Linked DNA regions of Homo sapiens: region 2 is linked to region 1. The links come from fine-mapping of genetic effects on gene expression. A gene starts in region 1. The other region holds a variant in brackets. All regions are shown on one strand. Distances are from middle to middle. Region 1 holds the start of ANKS6 (ankyrin repeat and sterile alpha motif domain containing 6). Region 2 overlaps ANKS6 (ankyrin repeat and sterile alpha motif domain containing 6).

Region 1 (5,381 bases):
CATGGATCTGTGAGCTACAGAAGAACCTTGTACTAAATCCTGCAGCTTTTCCAGCACCTAAAACAGTGTCTGGAAATGGCAGGCACTCAATACATATTTGTTGAAAATGGAAAGAGAGTTGGACTCGATGTCAGAAGACCTGAGTCCTACTCACAGCTCTCCTGCAGAATAGTTGTGGAGTCTTTGGCAAGACACAACCTCTTTGTGCCTCGGTTGCCTCCTCTGCAACCTAGGGATGATCATCTGGGCCCTCCCCGGTGGATGGCAGGCGTGCAATGAAGATCAAACGTGGGTCTCCAACTTTAGCATGCATCAGAATCACCCAGAGGGCTTGTTAAAATATAGGTTGCTGAACCCACACCCAGAATTTCTGATTCAGTAGATCTTGGGTAGGGCCAGAAAAATCTGCGTTTGTAACAGTGTTGCAGCTGGTGATGGTGCTACTGCTGTGTGGGACACACTTCAAGGACCGCTGATAAAGAGAGAGAAGGTATTTCATTTTCTTTGTGACCATTGTAAATGAGGTTGTGTTCTTAATTTTGTTCTCAGCTAGAATGTTATTGGCATATCAAACTGCTATTGCTTTTTATACATTGATTTTCTGTCCTGAAACTTTACTGAATTTGTTTATCATTTCCAGGAGCCTTTTGGCAAACTCTGTAGGGTTTTCTATGTATAGATTCATACTCTCCGCAAAGACAGAGTGTTCGACTTTTTCTTTTCCTATTTGAATGCCTTTTATTTCTTTCTCTTACCTGGTTGTCTGGCTAGGACTTCCAGTACTATGTTGAATAGGAGTGGTGAGAGTCTTCTTCCAGCTTTTGCCTGTTTAATATGATGTTGGCTATGGGTTTGTCATAGATGGCTGTTATTATTTTGAGGTATGTTCCTTCAATGCCTAATCTGTTTTGAAGATTTTTATTATAAAGGGATGTTGGATTTTATTGAAGGCCTTTTCTGCATCTATTGAGATGATTATATGGTTTTTGTTTTTGATTCTGTTTATATGGTGAATCACATGTATTGATTTGCGCATGTTGAGCCAACCTTGCATTCCAGAAATAAAGCCTACTTGATCATGGTGAATTGACTTTTTGATGTGCTGCTGGATTCTGTTTGTAGTATGTCATTGAGGATTTTTGCAGCTATGTTTTTCAGGAATATTGGCCTGAAGTTTTCTTTTTTTCGTTGTGTCTCTGCAAAGGGCATGAACAGACACTTCTCAAAAGAAGACATACAGGCAGCCAACAAACATATGAAACAAATGCGCAACATCATTAATCATCAGAGAAATGCAAATCAAAACCACAATGAGATATCATCTACACCAGTCAGAATGTCAATTATTAAAAAGTCAAAAAACAATAGGTGCTGCTAAGGCTGTGGAGAAAATACACTGTTGGTGGGAATGCAAACTAGTTCAGCCACCGTGGAAAGCAGTTTGGAGATTTCTCAAAGAACTTAAAATAGAACTATTTGACCCAGCAAACCTACTACCAGGTATATACCCAAAGGAAAATAATTCATTCTATCAAAAAGACACCTGTATATTCATTGCAGTGCCATTTACAATAGCAAGGGTATGGAATCAACCTAAGTGCCCATCAACAGTAGATTGGATAAAGAACATGTGGTACAGAGCCAGATGTGATGGCTCACACCTGTAATCCTGGCACTTTGGGAGGCCACAGCAGGTGAATCACTTGAGCTCAGGACTTTGAGACCAGCCGGACAACATGGTAAAACCCTTTCTCAACCAAAAATACAAAAAATTAGCCGGGTGTGGTGGCACTTGCCTGCAGTCCTAGCTACTCGGTAGGCTGAGGTGGGAGGATTGCTTGAGCCTGGGAGGCAGAGGTTGTGGTGAGTAGAGATTGCACCATTGCACTCCAGCCTGGATGACAGAGCAAGACCCTGTCAAAAGAGAGAGAGAGAGAGAGAGAGAGAGGGAGAAAGGGAGGGAGGGAGGGAGGAAGGAAGGGGGATAGGGAGGGAGGGAGGGAAGAGAGGGAAGGAATGAAAGAAATGTGGTGCATATACACGATAGAATATGATGGAATACTACGGAATACTATGCAGCCATAAGAATGAACGAAATCATGCCCTTTGCAGCAACATGGATAAAGCTGGAGGCCATTATCCTAAGCGACCTAAAAAGAACAGAAAACCAAATACTGCATGTTCTCACTTATAAGTGGGAGCTAAACATTGAGTACACATGGACACAAAGATGGGAACAACAAACGCTGGGGATCGCTAGGCCAGGGAGGGATGGAGGGGACTCTGGGCTGAAGAACCTCTTGGTGGGTATTATGCTTACTGCCTGGGTGACGGGATCGTTGGGACCACAAGCTTCAGCGTCGCGCAATTTACCCATGTAACAATTTACCCATGTAACAAACCTGTACCCTTTAATCTATAATAATAGTTGAAATAAAAGGTGGGGGAGAGAGAGAGAACAGGAGGCGCTTTTAGCCCCAGCAGCCTGGCCCAGATGAAGGAGCGACATTAAGGGCACCGCAGGACACTGTGAGGAAACAATCCGTTCGTTCCTTAATTCAGCCGCTTCCTTATTCTAGAAGGGCAGGTTCAGTGCCAGGGGCTGCGGTGGGGTCAGCGGAGCCCGCTAGTAAAGTCAAGGCCCACGCAGCTGCGGACTCAGACCCGGGCCCAGGGCCCTGACCACAGCGTGAAGAGGGGATGGCGTGGCCGCTCCCACCTCTGCCCTGACAGGAAGTTTCTGGAGCCCCGGGACAGGGCGGCGAGAGGGCGCCGAAGAGGCAAAAGGGAACACGCGGGTCTGCGGCGGGCGCTCCTCTGAGCGTCCCTGGACTCCCGAATACGGGCACTGGAGGTGCGCAGCCCCGGCCCTAGCGCGCTCCCGGCACACAGCAGGCGCGCGGCCCTAGCCCCGGCGCGCTCCCGGCACACAGTAGGCGCGCGGCGCGGGCGGGTGGCCGGAAGGGGGCGCCTGCGGGCGGTATCCGGGGGCGGAGCCGACGCGGCCGGCGGGGCGGACGGGAGCGGGCCGCGCGTGGCGGCGGCGATGGGCGAGGGCGGGCTGCCCCCGGCCTTCCAGCTGCTGCTGCGCGCGTGTGACCAGGGCGACACGGAGACGGCGCGGCGGCTGCTGGAGCCGGGGGCGGCGGAGCCAGCCGAGCGCGGCGCGGAGCCGGAGGCGGGCGCGGAGCCGGCGGGGGCCGAGGTGGCCGGGCCCGGGGCCGCAGCGGCGGGGGCAGTCGGGGCTCCGGTGCCCGTGGATTGCTCGGACGAGGCGGGCAACACCGCACTGCAGTTCGCCGCGGCCGGGGGCCACGAACCGCTGGTGCGCTTCCTGCTGCGCCGCGGTGCCTCGGTCAACAGCCGCAACCACTACGGCTGGAGCGCGCTCATGCAGGCGGCCAGGTGAGGCGGCGGGGCCCGGGGGCCCGGGACCAGAGTGGTGCCCGGCGCTGGCCCGAGACGCGGTCCCCGGCGGCCGGATGCCCCGGGAGGTGAAGAGTTAAGGACTCCTTAGAGTTGGAATGGTAAACTTTGAGTAGTCTTTTGTAAACTTTGAGCATAGACGTGGAAACACTTTTGAATTAACATAAAATCAGATTCTTAGAAATTTTGGCCTTTCAGAATAGAATCTGGAGACAGCGAATAGAATTGTAGAGACTTAGAACCTTAGAGATTTAATTCATTTCTTATTGCAGTAAGAGTTTCCTCAGAACCTGCCTTCCCTTCCTGGCTTGGCGTTGAGGGTGCTGCGAGACCCAGGCAGAGTCCCCACCCAGGGCATTGGTGGGCAGGCCAGGCAAAGGAACGAGCTTGACCGGAAAGGTTTGAGTAGCTGTGGGGCAGGTGACCCATTTTGGAGACGTGGGGGAAGGTTTCTGGTAGAAAAGATGTTTATATCCACGTGGAGACCTGCGGATACCTGAGAATTAGCCAGGACATTACAAGTGGGCTGTGGGAAGGCATGATGGGAGGCCCATGCAAAGGCTTGGGTGCACGAGCTGGTAGGACTGGTAGAATGAGGTATGCGTAGAATGTATGAGTAGAATGATGTACTAGTCCTCCCTGGAGAGAAGGCAGATGCCAGGGAGTTGGGGGAGTGTGGGAGCTGAGAAACGCTAGCTATCCTAGGGTGCTAGGGAGTCATGGAAGGTGCTAGGGAGTCATGGAAGGTTCTAGGCAGAATGAGTGACAGGATGAGAGTTACGTTTTGGAAAAATTACTTTCCTTGAAGTGTGAGAATAGATTAGATACTCTAGGGTAAGCTAGAGTCAAAAAGGCTGGTTAGGTAGAGTTTGCTGCAGTCTGAGTGAGAGGTGATGGTGGCCTAGACCAGAATGGAGACAGCGGAGGGAGGGCACCCAGATGAATTTGTGATATATTCAGGGAGTAGATCAGCAGGAGTTGACGACTGGCCCTTGGGGAGGGGTTAAGAGAGACAGCAAGGATGGCATCTAGAGATCTGGCTTCTGTGAAGCCTGCCATGATATCTCCCTGTTCTCTGGTCCCTCCGCAGCAGAAAGGCCTCTGTGGTAGCATCCATCACACCATGTTAATGCTGACTGGCTTCCTCAGTACCCAAACCTGGCCACACATCAGAATCACCAGGATGCTTGTCTAAGTGCAGATTCCTGAGTTCCTTTTCTGGAGATTGTGATTTAGAAGGCCCAGGGCAGTGAGGGGAGTAAGAGACAGGGACTCTGTGTGAGAAGAGGCTCCCCAGTGATTCTCTTGTATGGTAGGTTTGGGAGCCACTGATGTGTTATGTGTGTCTCATCTCTGCAATCCACCAAGTGCGTGCACAGGGGCCCTGGTGAGCCCCCTGAGGAATTTACTGAGTGAGGTTTGTGACTACAGCACTGACATGCCTCAGAGTGTCTCAGAGACCCCAGATCATCAGTTTTAACCAAGTTCTGCAGGATAGTCTTGAGCCTGGGTATTTTAAAATGTGCTGTTCCTCAGTTGGTGTGACACCGACTCTATATTCAGGTAGCATCTCTGCCTGTGTTGAGTTGTGCTCCAGCTTTCTGCTGCGTAATTCATAAGAAAAGGTCAAGTTGAGGAGTAGTATATATGGAAGACTTCCAGAAGGATGTACAGTGTGTCTGTCCCTCACATCGGGGTAGGCAAATGAATGGCCTGTGTGCTGACACCTTCCAGCCTTGTGCTCTTCTTCCTTGGATCTGGATACGCCCCCAGAATCCTGCTCAAAACCACACCCCTGGCAGCCACCACGCTGGGTCTGAGCAAGCATCTATTTATCGTCCCAGCTCTCTGTGTGGATCAGGCCAGACTATTAGACACCCTGTGCCTTTGGTCTTTTGTGGGTGTTTTAGTATTAGAAATGGTGACCTTAGTGTTTTTTCCTGTTCTTTTTTTTT
Region 2 (5,381 bases), 41 kb after region 1:
AAGAAAGACAAAAAAAAAAAAAAAGAAAGATGGCGCATGTCAAAAGGGTACAGGAGCCAACCCGAAAGATCTCACAATGGCCAAAGCTGTAATAATGAGCTACAAAATAACAGTAATATTGGATTATGGCCCAGAGCTTAAAAAATACCCATGAGCCTGTACTGATAGGAATAAATGATTGAGCAAATAAATAGGAGAGAAAGAACAACTCTTCCTTATAGAAGTATTACAGATAATAAATGTGGAAGGAAGGAGGGCAATAGAAAATCACCATGGGAACACCACTGTAACACTTGCCTCAGTGAGACTCACCAATGAATGCAAAGTTAATGGGCAGAACCTTAATAAATATTTACCCAAAAACTTCTCCCAAAGGATATTTTATTTTGTATATTTATTTATTTATTTATTTATTTATTTTGAGACAGAGTCTCGCTTTGTCACCCAGGCTGGAGTGCAGTGGTGCGATCTCGGCTCACTGCAACCTCTGCCTCCCGGGTTCAAGTGATTCTCCTGCCTCAGCCTCCCAAGTAGCTAGGACTACAGGCACCCACCACCACACTTGGCTAATTTTTGTATTTTTTAGTAGAGATGGGGTTTCACCATATTGGCTAGGCTGCTCTTGAACTCTTGACCTTGTGATCCACCTGCCTCAGCCTCCCAAAGTGCTGGGATTACAGGCATGAGCCACCATGCCCAGCCCAAATAATATTAAAAAGAAAAATAGTGACTTTATAATGGAGAAACCCAGCAGACATCCCCTCATGTAAGTGATGAAGGTTACCATCACCAGTAATCAGATACTGTGTCCTCTCTGCATAACGATGCACTGAATGGGCATATCACTTCATTGCCCCCTACATTCACAAGCACATCTAATTATGGGAAAACTTAAGATAATCCCAAAATGATGTGCATTCTTCAAAATACCTGACCAAGATTTCCCAAGTGTCAGGGTCATGAAAGACAAGGAAAGACAGCGCTGTCACAGGTCAGAGGAGCCTACAGAGATACAGCACAGCTCCATGCAGTGTGGGTTCCTGGATCAGATCTTGGACCAGCATAAGGACATAAGCAAAACAGCCAGGGAAACAGAGTGAAGTCTGTAGTTTAGTTAATAGTGTTGTGTCAATGTCAGCTTGTTAGTTTTGATCATTATACTGTGACGATGTAGATATTAATATCAGGAAGCTGTGTGAGGGGTATGTGGGAACTCTGTTCTCTCTGTGCAGCTCTTCTATACGTCTAGAATTATTTTAATGTAAAAAGCCTTTGTTTTAAAGCTAACCAATGAGAAAAAGGGAAGAATACGTGTTCTTTGGTGTAGATGAAGGAGCATCAAGAGCAGAAAGAGACTTTGTGCCTCCCTAAGCCAGACTTTCATTTTACAGCTGGTTAACTGAGGCCCAGAGAGCTCGGGGGGCTTGGCCAAAGCCACAATGCAAGTAGCTGGAGGGCAGGACTGGGATTGGGGGAGCGGGGCGGGGTGGGGAGCGGGGTGGTTCCTGACTCATAATATGCAGCTATTTGATCTTATCCTATCTCTGCTCCAGGGTTGCATTTTCCTCTAATTGTTCTGATAATGATATTTCTGCTTTCCATGTTTTTAAAAGTAGATTTCATAGTCTTGGTTAAACATCATGTTGAATCAAATACCACCCATGTTCCCTGTTGTGGGTGTCTTGTTTTCCTCATTTCTACCCTACAGGTGATGGCTTATGTATTTGTCTTACTCTGTTCAGCAGAAATTGGAGACCAGCAAAAGGCCTCCATCTGGAACTTCCACTACCTCCAAGAGCACCTCTCCAACCCTCACGCCCTCCCCCTCACCCAAAGGGCACACTGCAGAGTCCTCAGTGTCTTCCTCGTCATCCCATCGGCAGTCCAAGAGCAGTGGGGGCTCCAGCAGTGGCACCATCACAGATGAGGGTGAGTCCCCTGAGGGCCTGAAACCCCACCTATTCCTCTCACCATGATGACCTGGCAGCAAGGAACTGCAAGGTGACCTTAATTGCTATAACCATCCTAGGTCAGGTTTTAAGAAGATTTACGACAAACATGTCCCTCCTCTTCTCTGATTGTACCTTGTATTTTTGTCTTCACTATGCTAAAGGTATGGTAAGCTCCCTCAAAGAGTTTTTGAGTATAGGTGATTTTTGTTTACATGCACAAACATACACCCATGGAAGTGCTTCTCCAACACGAACTTACTTTCCCTGGACCCTGTACCTGTCAGGATTCTTTCAGTTGTGAGTGAGAGAAACTCCACTCACACTGGTTCAAGGGAAAAAAATGAAACCTGACATTTCATTGGCTCATATGATGGGAGTGTCTAGGGTGTGCTTCAACCATGCCTGAAT[T/C]CAGGTGCTTTGGGAGTGTTTCCAGGTCTCAGGTAGGTTCTCTCCAAGTGGTGGCAAGCAGCTTCAGGCATACTTTTGTCTTCCCACCAATTTTTCAACTCCAGCAGAACGAGTGCTACTTTCTCAGTAGGTCCAGCAAAATCCCAAGTGTAAAGGCCATTGGCTTGGCTGTATTTATAATGACCTAGGTCAGTTGCCCTCCCTTGACTATCTCTGTGTCCACAGGGGTGGAATGTGGTGATTGGCCATGCCCCTTCGGTCAGTTGTCTGCTTTGGAGCGGAGTTGGGGTCCAACCTACTGACATATGTGTATTGGAAGTGGGAGAGAAATAGTTCCTCAAAGGAAAATTTGGAAATACTGTTTCCAGGAGAAGGGGGATGGGTGAGGGCAAGCAAAAGCAGTTGATGTCTGCTGCAACCAGGAGAGCCTTGGAACCTGCCTTGTGAATTACAGCCTCTGCAGCCCCCATGCGGGAATGATGAGGGAAGATGGAGTGGGTGGTAGGGCAGGAGCAGAGGCTTTGCAGTCAGGCCCCAGGAAAGATAAAGGCAGATGAAGAAAGGAATCCCATCCTTTTAAACTGCCCTCTAGAGGCCTGTAGGAGCTGGGATGGGGGAAAGAGGGAGGAAGCTTTGGTGAGACCTGGGGTCCAGGCAGGTGCAAATCGAGGAGTATAAGTCAGCAGGGAGGAAAATCTGATTGTGTTCGTGGCCCTCACAAATGCGTTTGCGGGCAGTTCGCTGCAGCTGCTGAGGAGTAGGGTGCTGAGCAGGTTCTGCTGAGCAAGATAAGTTGGAATCACTTGCACAGGCTCTAGTCTGTACTAAGTTGATAAATGCATGCTGCCACTGGTGTCCTCCTTATTTGGGGGCTGCTTTTATTGTTTTGTGATATCCAGTGTGATCATTTATCAAGGCCTCAGAGATTCACCAGCAAACTCATTCCTCCCCAACCATATTTTCTATGTGGAGTCTTGAGTTCCACACTCGTGAATTCTCCCACCTCTGAGGTTTTCAGGAATTGAAGCCCCTAGAGATTCAGTTAGGTATTTGTGCCCCATTGTTTTCCAAAAAAGAGTGGAGACAGTGGATGTCTGTATGGACTGTTTGTACCCACTCTCTTTCCCTCTTGTTCATTATTAAAAATGGTTTGCAGAGTCCTAATTGGGATGAAAAAAGAAGAGGGCCAATAGCACTTTCTTTGTAGAATAATTTCTCTGGTTCATAAAGCTTAGTTTTCCTGTTGAGAGTTCCTGGGTCCTGAGGCAGCGAGCCCTTTGTCCTGTGGGTATATGATTGTTATAGGCCGGGGGCTGCAATCCATCCCCGAAGAGCTTTTTTTTTTTTGAGACGGAGGCTTGCTCTGTCACCCATGCTGGAGTGCAGTGGCGCGATCTCGGCTCACTGCAAGCTCCTCCTCCCGGGTTCACACCATTCTCCTGCCTCAGCCTGCCAAGTAGCTGGGACCTCAGGTGCCCGCCACCACGCCTGGCTAATTATTTTGTATTATTAGTAGAGACGGGGTTTCACCGTGTTAGCCAGGATGGTCTCGATCTCCTGACCTCGTGATCCGCCCGCCTCGGCCTCCCAAAGTGCTTGGATTACAGGTGTGAGCCACCACGCCCGGCCCCCAAAGAGCTATTTTTATTATATTCTTCTGGGAAATATTTGGTCCCAGTCAAGGACACGTGAGCTTTTCCCTGCCTCATGTCTCCATCTGCATTCCTCCTCTCTGGACTCCACCTGTTGAAGCAGCAAGGCTGGTGACAGCATCACCTTCTCAGCCTCACATTTGTTCCAGGAAATTTTCTTGGGCAGTCCCCTGGATGCCCTAACCTATGCACCCAGGGGAACTCACAGGGATACAGACACATTCAACATAATGACATTAGAGTGTAACACAAGGTGAGGTCATACCTGTTATCAGCAAAGCACCATGTGCCATGGTAGGCTCCCCTGGTGAGCGGGCACTCCAGCTGGACCACGACACTGGGAAGAGATGGGCAGTGGGGTGCCAGAGCCGACTGTTCAGTTTATAGGACATGCCCAAGCTGGTTGTTAAACACAACCATTATTTACAAATTACATGAACTTCGAATTAACTGAATTATAGAAATATAACAGTATATTGTACTTAAAATGTATTTTTTACTCATTTTTGTATATTTTATTATCTGTGCTCTTGAGGTTGTGTATATCTCATACCTGCAGTGTGAATACCCCGTAATGATGTGTTCCTACTGCGCATCTCTGCTCAGCTTCACTTTCAGGGGCATTAGATTGGTAGGTTGAAATTGGCTATGATGGGGGTATTTACACCATGGAAATTGGCAAACACCATCAATCAGGGCTTGCTTTTTTTTTTTTTGAGATAGGGTCTTACTCTGTCACCCAGGCTGGGGTACAGTGGTGTGATCACAGCTCACTGCAGCCTCAACCTCCCTGGTCTCAAGCAATCCGGGGCTTGATTTGTTGTCTTATAGATATTGTCTACATGTAATCTAGGCAGTGATGGGAAAATGTTAACAATGAGGATTAAACTTAAAAGTAGGTTGTATCTGTAACCGTTATCTTGTGAGTAGCACAAAAAATTGAGAAAATACTCTTCCAGTATTTGAAAACCATTATCTGATTCAGCCAAGTTGCTCACCTGAAGTTCCAACGTAAGTCTTTGTTGTTTCTTTTTTATGTTTCTTGTTCATGTAAACAAAACTCTCAGCCAGTGTTCATGTTGGAACCATACTCCTTGGCTGTGGGTACAAGAGTAGGGCAAAAACAAATGAAAGCATTTGGTGAGAATCAATTGGCTATATGGAATTTATAAGAAAGAATATTGTATTTTTTATTATTTGTAAATTGTGTGCTATAAATCCTTTATATCAGTAAATCTGCAATAGATTTATGTGCCTATATACATGCATACACCTTCCCCCGAGAACCAGTTGTTAAACATTTACCAGCACACCACTGTGGACCAAGGCTGCATGTGTAGGGAACAGCAGGAGCAAAGGTTTGGTGTCA

What was found. PIP is the estimated chance that this variant, and not a neighbour inherited with it, causes the effect.
Region 2: its variant is fine-mapped to the expression of ANKS6 in whole blood (TOPMed, PIP 0.96).

What each region holds. Positions count from the first base shown.
Region 1 is chr9:98,794,157-98,799,537 of GRCh38, reverse strand. It overlaps ANKS6 (ankyrin repeat and sterile alpha motif domain containing 6), which reads left to right and starts at 2,983. Exons shown (of 15, transcript NM_173551.5): 1 at 2,983-3,405. The coding sequence starts at 3,047. LOC124902229 (a long non-coding RNA gene) reads left to right here. Exons shown (of 2, transcript XR_007061689.1): 2 at 1-1,090. RefSeq lists enhancers at 2,719-3,219, 3,220-3,720 and a silencer at 2,841-3,460.
Region 2 is chr9:98,752,968-98,758,348 of GRCh38, reverse strand. It overlaps ANKS6 (ankyrin repeat and sterile alpha motif domain containing 6), which reads left to right. Exons shown (of 15, transcript NM_173551.5): 12 at 1,746-1,929. Among named protein-coding and RNA genes, the nearest start is that of ANKS6, 41 kb to the left of the region's middle. The variant T/C (reference allele first, on the strand shown) is at 2,361.